Homo sapiens: one gene and its partners. The protein of the gene in region 3 purifies or fractionates together with the protein of the main gene of each other region. This does not show direct contact. Each region holds a gene or a part of one and is shown on either strand. Other genes may lie near its edges. The genes, in order: SERPINB12, SERPINB7 and MOGAT3.

What was found.
Region 1: the proteins of MOGAT3 (region 3) and SERPINB12 purify together in Homo sapiens (affinity purification with mass spectrometry; one large-scale study listed by BioGRID and IntAct). This does not show direct contact.
Region 2: the proteins of MOGAT3 (region 3) and SERPINB7 purify together in Homo sapiens (affinity purification with mass spectrometry; one large-scale study listed by BioGRID and IntAct). This does not show direct contact.

Annotation. Positions count from the first base shown.
Region 1 is NC_000018.10:63,566,260-63,569,867, reverse strand, and holds the end of SERPINB12 (serpin B12), read right to left. Parts: intron 3,262-3,608; coding exon 2,857-3,261; 3' UTR 539-2,856; downstream 1-538. UniProt on the Homo sapiens protein: Inhibits trypsin and plasmin, but not thrombin, coagulation factor Xa, or urokinase-type plasminogen activator. May play a role in cell differentiation.
Region 2 is NC_000018.10:63,781,863-63,785,509, reverse strand, and holds part of SERPINB7 (serpin B7), read right to left. Parts: intron 3,156-3,647; 5' UTR 3,138-3,155; coding exon 2,970-3,137; intron 1-2,969. UniProt on the Homo sapiens protein: Might function as an inhibitor of Lys-specific proteases. Might influence the maturation of megakaryocytes via its action as a serpin.
Region 3 is NC_000007.14:101,198,186-101,202,519, forward strand, and holds the start of MOGAT3 (2-acylglycerol O-acyltransferase 3), read right to left. Parts: upstream 2,852-4,334; 5' UTR 2,670-2,851; coding exon 2,561-2,669; intron 2,331-2,560; coding exon 2,223-2,330; intron 2,120-2,222; coding exon 2,049-2,119; intron 646-2,048; coding exon 441-645; intron 181-440; coding exon 6-180; intron 1-5. UniProt on the Homo sapiens protein: Catalyzes the formation of diacylglycerol from 2-monoacylglycerol and fatty acyl-CoA. Also able to catalyze the terminal step in triacylglycerol synthesis by using diacylglycerol and fatty acyl-CoA as substrates.

The DNA of each region.
Region 1 (3,608 bases), on a different chromosome or scaffold from region 3:
AGCACTTTGGGAGGCCAAGGCAGGTGGATCACTTGAAGTCAGGAGTTCAGGACCAGCCTGGCCAACATGGTGAAACCCCCTCTCTACTAAAAATACAAAAATTAGCTGGGCGTGGTGGCGGGCGCCTGTAATCCCGCTACTCAGCAGGCTGAGGCTTAAGAATCACTTGAACCCAGGAGGCAGAGGTTGCAGTAAGCCAAGATTGCACCACTGCACTCCAGCCTGGGCAACAGTGCAAGACTACATCTCAAACAAAAAAAAAAGAAAAACCTGTAGTCGGCAGAAATGTCTTCTATATTCTGATGATCAGCTGGCTATCACTCTGGTTTTAGCATTGTCAGTTTTCATCTTTTTTATATGCCTTCATATGTAATTATGATGGAAAGCTGGGAGAAACTATTACTGGGGCAAGATGTATTTTTCCTGTGTAACTGAGATGAATTGTTAGTTTCATAGATTATGTATTTTTATATTTTTGGATGAAACAGTTTGAAGTTAAATTTATATCCCTAAAAAAATCAGTTGGCAACACATCGTATATATTTTAACTAATAACAAAAGTGCTTTATTCATTCAGAAGAAACTTCTTAATAAATCAAAGGTTAGTAAAGAATGTTTACTGATTTACATAAAGATTTAAGATTCTTAATTTTCCTCATTATTGTAAATAGATACATTCTCCCTCTCATGCTTCAAAATCTGAGAAATCCCGATGTAAATGAAAAAAAAATGTGTTTACCAAGTAAAAGAATAAGAACAAAAGAAATGCCGGGCAGTGCAGGCCTATATATAGGTCATGGTTTCCAGCTACGTGTCGGGCAGTGGTGCCAAGTCAGACATGGAAACAGCCCCCAAAACGTCAACCCCAAAAGGAACCACAGGGGACATGAAGTTTTTGGTTATCTGAAATTAATTTGACCCATGGGACATGCATTCTGGATAGGGCACTGCCTCAAACTGCCTCACGTTACCAACGTCAAATTGTTTTAGGTCGTAAGTGAGCTTCAACAATGAGAAGGTTGTATGGAGAACATGGAACTTGTCTCTCAGAGCACAAAGAAATCACTGGGGTAGGTGAGAAAAGGAAGAGGAGGCTAGCATGGGAGCAGGTGTGGTTCACCTGCCTTCTGCAAAAAAACTGCGTGGCCACACTGAACGACTGGTGGCAGCTGGGAGGAGGACAGCCACAAGGTGGGCCAAGGAAACTGAGCCGCAAGCAAGACCTGAAACCCACCTCGATAGGAAAGAGACTGACTCCAAAGAGATGTGAGTTGGACGTGTCAGTGGTCATGGCAGAACATTCAGCTAAGATAGAAATTAGGAACTCAGATTACCACACCAGAGAACAGAGGCCCTGAGTCCGCGAGTAGGAACACTCAGAGGTCAGGCCTTCAGTAGACTAGAGCTTGAGATGAGCCCAATGGCCTTCTTGACAAGGGTTTCAGGTTTTGTTTTGGCTTTTTGGGTTTTTTGTTTGTTTGTTTTTTGAGACAGGGTTTCGCTCTGTCACCCAGGCTGGAGTGCAGTGGCGCCATCTCAGCTTACTGCAGCCTCCATCCCCTGGGTTCAAGTGATCTTCCCACCTCAGCCTCCCGAGTAGCTGGGACTATAGGTGCACACCACCACGCCCGGCTAATTTCTGTATTTTTTGTAGAGTCAGGGTCTCAATATGTTGCCCAGGCTGGTCTCGAACTCCTGGACTCAAGTGATCCACCTGACTCGGCCTCCCAAGAAGTGCTGGGATTGCAGGCATGAGCCATCATGCCCAGCCAACAAGCATTGCTATGGACACCATGCCCAGGCTCAAGCCTGTTGTCACCATGTGGTCTGGCATGAGACCTCTCGGAAGACACAAAAGTCCACGTGGCCAGAAGGCAGAGAGAGGGGCACACGGAGGCCAGCCTCCACGTGGCCAGAAGGCAGAGAGAGGGGCACACAGAGGCCAGCCTCCACGTGGCCAGAAGGCAGAGAGAGGGGCATACGGAGGCCAGCCGTCCACAATGCCAGCAGCACTTCTCTTGACACCTGCCTGTGCTGGGTGCATAAAAGGAGCTAGCCACAGGTGGGAATTCTTGGAGCTAGGGGGAGGAGAGACAGAGGGAAGTGTTTGATGATAATGTTGGGGGACTCAATAAGGAAAACTGAGATAAACCTCCTCTAAATCCACTAGCCACTTTCCTGGGTCAGTGTCAAAATCACAAGACAAATATCATTCCCCTGCTCTGTGCAAAATGAGTGCTGGTTGGGGCAGTCACACATCTTTGAGCTATCACTTAAATACGCCCAAGCCCTGCCTTGTCCTAGGTGAAAAGACCTCACAGGACATCTTCCATGCAGTAGCTGTCAAAGGAAGAAACAGGGCATCTCGCCCAGTGATGACCACAATCATAACTATCCCAGAAACAGAGCTGAGTTTCCAAACACGTTCCGGTCAAACTACCCCAGAAACAGAGCTGAGTTTCCAAACACGTTCCAGTCAAACATGTTCTCTTGCTGCCCATGTTAAAGTGGCTTCTGAGTTTGCCATCTCTTAGAAATGGTCTAATGACCTGAACTTTTAGGATTCCTTCAAAAGGAGGTAGGTACTGTTCTGAATTGTGTTGACCTTCAGGTCACAGAGGGTGAATTTATATGCTTGAAAGTTTAGGGTAGAGAACAACAGCCCTTCAATACTAACAGACTCAGATGAAAATAAGCTACAGGGTGACAGAAAGATCAAGATAAGCACAAGCCGATGGCTGGAGGATGAAGGAGATGCTTTAGATATTACCAAAAACTCAAATGCCCATCTTATGCCAGGGGAAGATTGTATTGATATTTTCCTCCAGCTCCAAAGTACTAGACACTGCTCCCCTTTTAAGGAGAGCAGACCCTGCCATAAAAGAGAATGGTTTGGGTTTTGTTGTGTCTAATGAAAAAGAGAAAAGGGTGGTTGGCATTAAACTCCACCCAAGATCGTAGTGACCTTTCCGAGACAACAGCCCCAGTGGCTGCAGCTGCCTGGGTACCGTTTTCATCCACCTCCACAAAGGTTTTGTGGATAATTTTTGACAAGTACAAATTGGGACTTGGAGAGATTCCAGTAAGATCAGCCCTCGTTTCATCAAAGATATCCGTAATGCCCATGTCTTGTAAAATGGAATTGAGATCATAGCTGTCTTCCAGGGTGAACCGGGGGAAGGACAGGACCACCGATTCTTCTGACATGTTTTCTGAGCTGCTCCAGGCCACCATTTTTTCATAGGTGATTTTCCTTTCAAGCTACAAGAGGAAGGAAATAATATTTAGCATCAGATTATGGGACCACAAAGAATGCCCCAATTACTTCAAGGTGCCTGAGTCCCTTTCAGTGGGCAGTGACAACCTTCAAGACCTTTCCCTAAGCTAGAGAATAGTCTGATTTCATTTAAAACTTCAAGCAAATATCTTTCCTCTTTAGAAGAAGTTAGGGGACAACTCAGGTTCCAGTGTGCTCTGGTGTTTGAGAGACAAGTGTTCAAAGCACAGCAAAGCTCAGTCGATTAGTTGAGTTCTGTGGCCAAGCCCTCATTTTCTGAAGTTAAATTTCCTCTTCCATAAAAGAGAGATAATATGATTAAGTTCTTGCA
Region 2 (3,647 bases), on a different chromosome or scaffold from region 3:
GCTGAGCTCCTTTTGGAGCTAAGATAACTCAAGACAAGCCCAGAACGTCTTGTCAGAAAGCAAAAATATTTTAAAGTTATTGGGAAGGATTGTTTAAAAAGATTGGGTTAAAGAGATATCTACTGGCGAAGCTATGACACTTTGAGCATCAAAAAGAAAAAGAAACACAGATCCATGGGAATGCTTAAAAGAGACACACAGATGGAAGCCATAAATTGAGCCGGGATTCATTTAAAATAGAAATGTGTGATTTATGGTGACAAGGGTCGAGTGTAGTAATGAGAAACCAACTGAAGCAGGGGAGAAGCTGAAAATTAATTTCCTAGAAGACATTTACAGAGGATTAAAAATGTGTGCAGATAAATTAGATGAATGTTTTTGTGTCTGTAGTTGCCTTTTCTCCTCTTACATGTTTCTTCATGCAAGATCATAATAGTAAGAGTTATAAAAAGTCACACATGAGAGTAATTGATGAGGCAGTAAAGAGTACAGAGCAAACTCCAGCAGAACAGCAGCTCTCTCAGTTCACCATGACTCATGAGCTGTTGACCCTGGCCCACCAGGCATGAGGTGCAGGGCAAGGAGACTTCAGAAGGTGTACCAGACAGGAGCTGAAAGATTGCTCCTGACATGAAAGCACACAGTAGGTAAGAGCCGTGTGTCTTCTGTTGCATTAAAATCAAGCTTTAGTCATAGGCATGGTGCCTGCACATCATTGTCTAACACATTGAACAGTGACAACTGTAAGGTTTTTTTCTTTATTTGTTTTATCATCAAATCAGCATCCTCCGTGCACAGGTGAGGACACTAGTGCCCACAGAGATGACATGATTTTCCCAAGGTCAGATCTTCGACCCAATCTTCTAACTCCCAGACCAAGGCTATGTTTCCATGATACCAAATCATCTCACTTGGTTCTGAAACATTATGCATTTTTATGAATGAATAAATTTTTATTTGTTGAATGTTTTTCAAGGGCTTTATATTTATTTATCAAAATACCCACTTTAAAATACTGAAGCTTCACAGTGATGTACTTTGAGCTATATTTCAGTTTGGTGGCTTCAGAGCAGTTCTCAACTGGAGACTGATTTTGCTTTTGAGGGCATTCTTTGGAAATATCTGGAAATGTTTTTGGTTGTCATGATGGGGGAGGGGTATGCTGCGGGTAGTTGTTGATGAGAGGCCAGGAATGCTGCTAAATGATGCATAGGACAGCCCCTCACAACAAAGATTTATCCAGCCAAAAATGTCAATAGTGCCAAAGTTGAGAAAACCAGTTGTAGAAGATCATCCTGAGTTTGAATCTCAGGTCCGCCATCTACCAGCACACAGTATGGTCACCCCTCCATAAAATCAGGGTAATATTCCCACTTCAGTGTGTCAATGTGAATATCAAATAAGATCATATTCTTAGGGCTTATCCCAGATCCTGAACACTGATTAAGTTCTCAGCAGATAGTTGTTACTATCATCTCATTAAAGTGTTGTATCCTATGTACTAGGTTGTAAACCGCTCTAGCGCTTGAAAAAAACAGCAGTCTAAGACTCTGTAGTTGTTCTCTAGCAATTAATATTTACTGAGCTATTCAGATAAAGGAAGGAATTATTCTAGCTTAAATTATCCCATAAATGGTTTTCCATATGACCTGAGGTATGACAGGTTACAACAGGCACCAGATTCCTCTGGCAAGCCCTTCAGAACTAAAATAATGGGAGGAATAGTGGGGCAAGAGGTGGGCACAGGGAGGTGGGGGCAGAAAGGGACGACATCAAGGCCTCTGCATGCAGCCTGGACCTGGCATCTCACCTGCTGTTGAGCTACTGAGTTTCAGTGGCAATTTTCTGAGAAGGGAGGGAAACGACCATTCCACTTCCCTATAAAGTGCTCCCAGAGCTGTGTGCACGGGTGTGTTAATAAGCACTCCCTGAAGGTGGCGGTGAAGGTGGTGATGATGACAATGTGAGGACTATTCAGGTAGGCTGCTATTATCTGGAATGTACTATGATGTTTTTGTGCCCCGGTAACCAGTGCTTAAACTGGGATGTCATTGGAATCTCCTTCTAACTCTCCTATCTCAACTGTATCTACTCAGGCAGTGGTTTTCAACCCTTCATGTGCACCTGGAGAGCTCATTAAAACCCAGAGTGCTGGGTCCAACACCCATAGTTTCTGATTCAGTACTTCTGGGGTAGAGCCCAAGCATTTGCATTTCTTTCTTTCTTTCTTTCTTTCTTTCTTTCTTTCTTTCTTTCTTTCTTTCTTTCTTTCTTTCTCTCTCTCTCTCTCTCTCTCTCTCTCTCTCTCTCTCTCTCTCTCTCTTTCTTTCTTTCTTTATTTTCTTTTTGTTTTGTTTGATCGTTTGTTTTCTGAGACGGAGTCTCGCTCTGTCGCCCAGGCTGGACTGCAGTAGCGCTATCTCGGCTCACTGCAAACTCCACCTCCCGGGTTCATGCCATTCTCCTGCCTCAGCCTCCCGAGTAGCTGGGACTACAGGCGCCCGCCACCATGCCCGGCTAATTTTTTGTATTTTTAGTAGAGACGGGGTTTCACCGTGTTAGCCAGGATGGTCTCGATCTCCTGACCTCGTGATCCGCCCGCCTCGGCCTCCCAAAGTGCTGGGATTACAGGCATGAGCCACCGCGCCCGGCCAGCATTTGCATTTCTAACAAGTTCTCCAGGCGGTGCTGATGATCCTGGTCTGGGAAACACACTTTGAGAACCACTGCACTGAGGGAAAACATCAAAGCTGCAGTACTTGGAATATTTCTGCTGCCTCTTGGCTCAAAAACAAGTACTGCAAGCTGTGTGCTTTCTTCACACCCAAAGAGGGCCTCGTGGAGATGTGTGAAGATGTGACACCTTGTGCCTCATGATGACCTCCATTAACATGGGGACCATTGCAACGAAATGTTCTCGTGGGAAAAACAATTTGTCCCAGTGATTAACTGCAAAAGCTGAGACTGACCTTATCAATCTGAGAGAGGGAGTCATCTTGAGCGCCCAAGCGGACCAGGGCCAGGGCAGCGAAGAGGCTCAGAGAGGAAAAGAACACATTTCCATTTCCTTGATTGTCATCCATCTCTCTGAACAGGTTGAAGCAAAACTCTGCATTTGCTGCAGCAAGGGAGGCCATTGCAAAATGGAGTGCAGCCTAGAGGACAATGAGAAAATGAAATTAGTTCCCGGTACATTTTCTAGGAATATTATATTTTTAGATTTATTTATTTTTTATAATTTAAAGCTTCATTTTTTTTCAGCCTTGGAGGTAATCATCAAATAACTCTAACAAAAAGGGAAAAGTTCCCTTGGCCCAGTATCCTTGTCACTAATACCCTAAAACTATCTCTTCTCGTTGGTGGACATTTCTGTCCTCAGTGGCCTGTGAGTGGCCTGTTTCCAACCCCCAAGCAGACACATTCATGGGGCTCACTATTTCTCAAATCACCCCAGATTTCTGAACTGAAATAGAGCAAAAGTAAATATTACAATATTAGACAGTCTATTTGAGGCACTACAGCCTTTGCTTTCTAAACCATCTGTAATTCAATACAATGTTAAATTTTTGAGGTTTAACACATCATTTTTAACCCATTCTTTCCATTAAGGCCTCTGTAAATTCTTAGAACAATCATACATTCTATTT
Region 3 (4,334 bases):
CTCACCCGTGCCTCAGCGCCAGGCGCACGAAGCCTTTGCGCTTCTGGAGCGTAAGGCAGTGCTCCCCGGGGACTGAATACAGGGCCTCGTGCGCACCCCCCACCATGATGACCACGGCCTGCCCGAGCTGGGGCTGGGACAGGATGAAGTCCAGGCTCTGGCGGCTCACCGGACAGAGTCCTGTGGGCAGGAGGAGGTGGAAAGTAGTTCCCATCTGCCTCCACGGCACCCCCGCCCCTCACCCAGCCTTTAGTTCCAAGCCCCCTACCCCCATCTCCAAGGCGGGGAACCTACCCAAATGCTCACTGCAAGTCTGGGCAGTGCTCAGGCTGGCCCCTGTCCTGGGTGGGGGACTTATTATGGGGGGGGGTGGTCCCAGAGGGGCTGGGGAACATCTGGTCAGGAGTCTCCTCCCGTTCTCCTCCTCCCATTCGGCTCACCAAAGGACATGATGTAGTCGCGATAGACCGGGAGGTAGAAGAGGCCAGCCAGCACGGCTAACCAGGGCCGGAGCCCCGGGAAGAGCTGGGAGAAGCCATTGCTCTCGGTGGAGAAATTACAGAGGAAGCCTGTACACATGATCCCATGAGGGTGGGCGCCCAGCACGTAGTTCCGATCCGGGGGCAGCTCTGCTGTTTTCACCAGCTTCGGGGTGTTGAGCAGGATGAAGGGAGGATGGAAGGCAAGACACCGGCTGAAAAGAGGGGCCCTCCACCCCAACAGAGTTCCGAGTTAAAGGTTCTTAGGATAGGGTCAAGGGCCACCCCAGCAGAGTTCCGAGTTAAAGGTTCTTAGGATAGGGTTAAGGGCCCAGGTTTTTTTTTTTTTTTTTTTTGAGATGGAGTCTTGCTCTGTAGCCCAGGCTGAAGTGCAGTGGCACGATCTCGGCTCACTGCAACCTCCGCCTCTTGGTCCCGGTTCAAGCTATCCTCCTGCCTCAGCCTCCCGAGTAGCTGGGATTACAGGCATGCGAAACTATGCCCAGCTAATTTTTGTATTTTTAGTAGAGACGCAGTTTCACCATATTGGCCAGGTTGGTCTTGAACTCCTGACCTCGTGATCTGCCTGCCTTGGCCTCCCACAGTGCTGGGATTACAGGCGTAAGCCACCTCACCCACTCTCTCTTTTTTTCTTTTCTTTTTTTGAGGCAGAGTTTTGCTCCTGTTGCCTAGGCTGGAGTGCAATGGCATCATCTCAGCTCACCACAACCTCCGCCTCCCTGGTTCAAGCAATTCTCCTGCCTCAGCCTCCAGAGTAGCTGGGATTACAGGCATGTGCCACCATGTCCGGCTAATTTGTTTGGTATTTTTAGTAGAGATGGGGTTTCTCCATGTTGGTCAGGCTGGTCTCGAACTCCTGACCTTAGGTGATCCACCCACCTCAGCCTCCCAAAGTGCTGGGATTAAAGGCTTGAGCCACCACAACCGCCTTTTTTTTTTTTTTTTTTTAGAGACGGTCTCACTCTGTTGCTCAGGCTGGAGTACAGTGGCGCAATCATGGCTCACTACAGCCTCCAACTCCTGGGCTCAAGCAATCCTCCCACCTCGGCCTCCCAAAGTGCTTGGATTACAGGCATGAGCCATGGTGCCCCACCAAGGCCCCGCTCTTGAACATCATCCACTCCCAGGCCGGGCGCGGTGGCTCAAGGCTGTAATCCCAGCACTTTGGGAGGCCGAGGTGGCTGGATCACTTGAGGCCAGGAGTTTGAGACCAGCCTGGCCAACATGTTGAAACCCTGTCTCTACTAAACTACAAAAATTAGCCAGGCATGGTGGCGGGCACCTATAATCCCAGCTACTAGGGAGGCTGAGGCATGAGAATAGCTTGAACCTAGGAGGCGGAGGTTGCAATGAGCTGAGATTGCACCACTGCACTCCAGCCTCGGTGACAGGAGACTCAGTCTAAAAAAAAAAAAAAATCCATTCCCTGTCCCACTGCCTGAGCTTAGGCAGCGGGGAGCTCAGGCCCCAGCACAAGGAAGGGCTCCTAGGTGTGGGAGGGAGATGGGGAGAGGTAGGAAGCAGTTTTTCTGCAGGGTGACCCATCACCTTGACAGGATAATAATCCCTTAGTTGTCTCCAAATTGCCCGGTTCCTTATCCACTCCGAACGCCTTCCACCTGCGGACAATGAGATACTGGTGGACGAACCCCCGGAGTCACCTCCCCTCACCCCCCATGTCCCCACCATCTCTGGCTACCTGGGCCCCCATCCGGAGCTCACCTTGGTTGGGTGTGTCCCAGTCCACATAGAGCCACACCAAGTAAAAAACAGAGAAGGGCCAGAGTGACGTGAAGAGGAGGACAAAGACAAGAAGGGAGAAGAAAGGGCCTGGGGGAAGGGAGAGAAAGAAAAGAGTTCACTTCTGAAACTCCATCATTCCCTCCAGCTGCTCCCTTCCCTTCCTCCCCTTCAGAACAACCAGCTCTCTCCTCTGGCCCTCTCCCAGACCAGTCACCTGGTCACTGTCCTCAGGCATGCAAGCCAGCAGCCCAGCCACTCTCCCTCCAAGCCCTACTCCCCTGGCAGACCCCAGGCACCCACGCCTCCCCAGCTCTCACCCATGAAGAGGAAAGTGAGCACATATTGGTAGGCGCCCACTGCTTCTAGATGCTGCTTCTGCAAGGTTTTGGAAGTGGTTGGGGGCTGCAGGGTTGTGGCAACTCCCATTGCAGAAGCTCCCCTCTTCCAGCAGGATCCCAGAACCCGGAGGACAAACGATGAAGGCTTGGATGTGGACCTGGGCAGACTTTCTCCCTACAGGAGCCCAGCTTTGGGGGCCTGGCTAAGTCGCAAATCACCTCCCAGAGTAGCGTGTGTCCGTAGGTGTGTGAGTGGGGAGATCTTTGGATCCAGAGCCCCAGATGTCTCTGGGTTTTTTCTCAGCCTGATCTTTGAACTTCCTGTCAGTCACCAGTCTGGGCTGGCTGCTGGGTGGGGCTGGGAGGCGTAAGGGGTGTGCAAGGGAGAGGTGACACCCGAGTGCCTCAGGAATTGATGTTGGAGTGGACAAGAGTGATCTGGCTAGCCCCACCCACTGGGTCCCAGGTGCTGGAAGGGGCCAGAAGCCCTGCTGAGACTATTTGACCTCCAGTCGGGGTGGGGGCAGGGCCTGGTCCGGGGCATCTCCAGGAATGTCAAGGTCACCACCCCTGCCTGGACCTCCCCCGCCATGCACAAACACACACAGGCTGCAGGTCTGTTTCCCACTTTAATTTTTTTCTTTTTCTTTTCTTTTCTTTTTTTTCTTTTTTTTTCACACGTCTCGGTCACCCAGGCTGGAGAGCAGTGGCACGATCTCGGCTCACTGCAACCTCCGCCTCCCGGGTTCAAACGATTCTCCTGCCTCAGCCTCCCGAGTAGCTAGGATTACAGGCGCGCCACCACGTCTGGCTAATTTTTTTTTTTTTTTTTTTTGGATTTTTAATAGAGATGGGGTTTCACCATGATGGCCAGGCTGGTCTCGAACTCCTGACCTCAAGTGATCCACCCGCCTCGGCCTCCCAAAGTGCTGGAATCACAGGCGTGAGCCACCGTGCCCTGCCGCCAGTCTTTAATTTCACTTCCCCACCTGCAGTCACCCAGCGGACAGGCGAGGCCAGGCGGTGGGGCGCGCCTCCGTGAGGACCAGGTGTCTGTCGGCGGGGACACCATAGCGCGCCTGGTGCTCCTCGAAGAGCTGCGTGAGTCGCCCCACGTAGCGCGCTTGCAGCGTGTCCACCTGGGCCGGACTGGGCGGGGGGCTCTGCTGCACGGGAATCGCCGACCCCACTGCGGGCGGGACGGGAGGCGATCTGGGCTGGGATCCCCGGTTCTCCTCCTCTTTTCCTCCTTGGGGATAGGCGGGAACAGAGTTCAGGGCTGGCGCGGTGGCCAAAGGCCAGTCTGGGTGGCCCCAACCCGGGACGGGGAGGGAGCGGGCCCTGGGCCAGGATCGCGGGGCGGAGGCCGGGGCTCACCTACGGTGCGGATGGGCGCGCGGAAGGGCAGCGGGAGGCCCCGGCGGCCCAGGAACAGCTGCAGGGCCACGCTTAGCAGCGGACGCAGAGCCTCCTGCGTCCTCTGCACCCACGAGCTCTGCGGGTTCGGGAACTGCTGGAAGAGCTCATTCTCCCTGGAGAAGACAGGCACTAGGGAGGCCGCAGGAGAGCATGGCGCGGCTGACTCCTGGCCCCGGGGTCCGCGGGTGGCGCCACTCTCCTCCTCCCCGGCCCGGCAGCCCTGGGGCGTCCCCACCGGGTCACGCTCGGGTCCTCACCCGAGTTCCAGAGCTGACTTAACCAATCTCTTCTGATTCCGAATCGGCAAGCTCAGTTGTCCGGGTTTTGCCTCCAG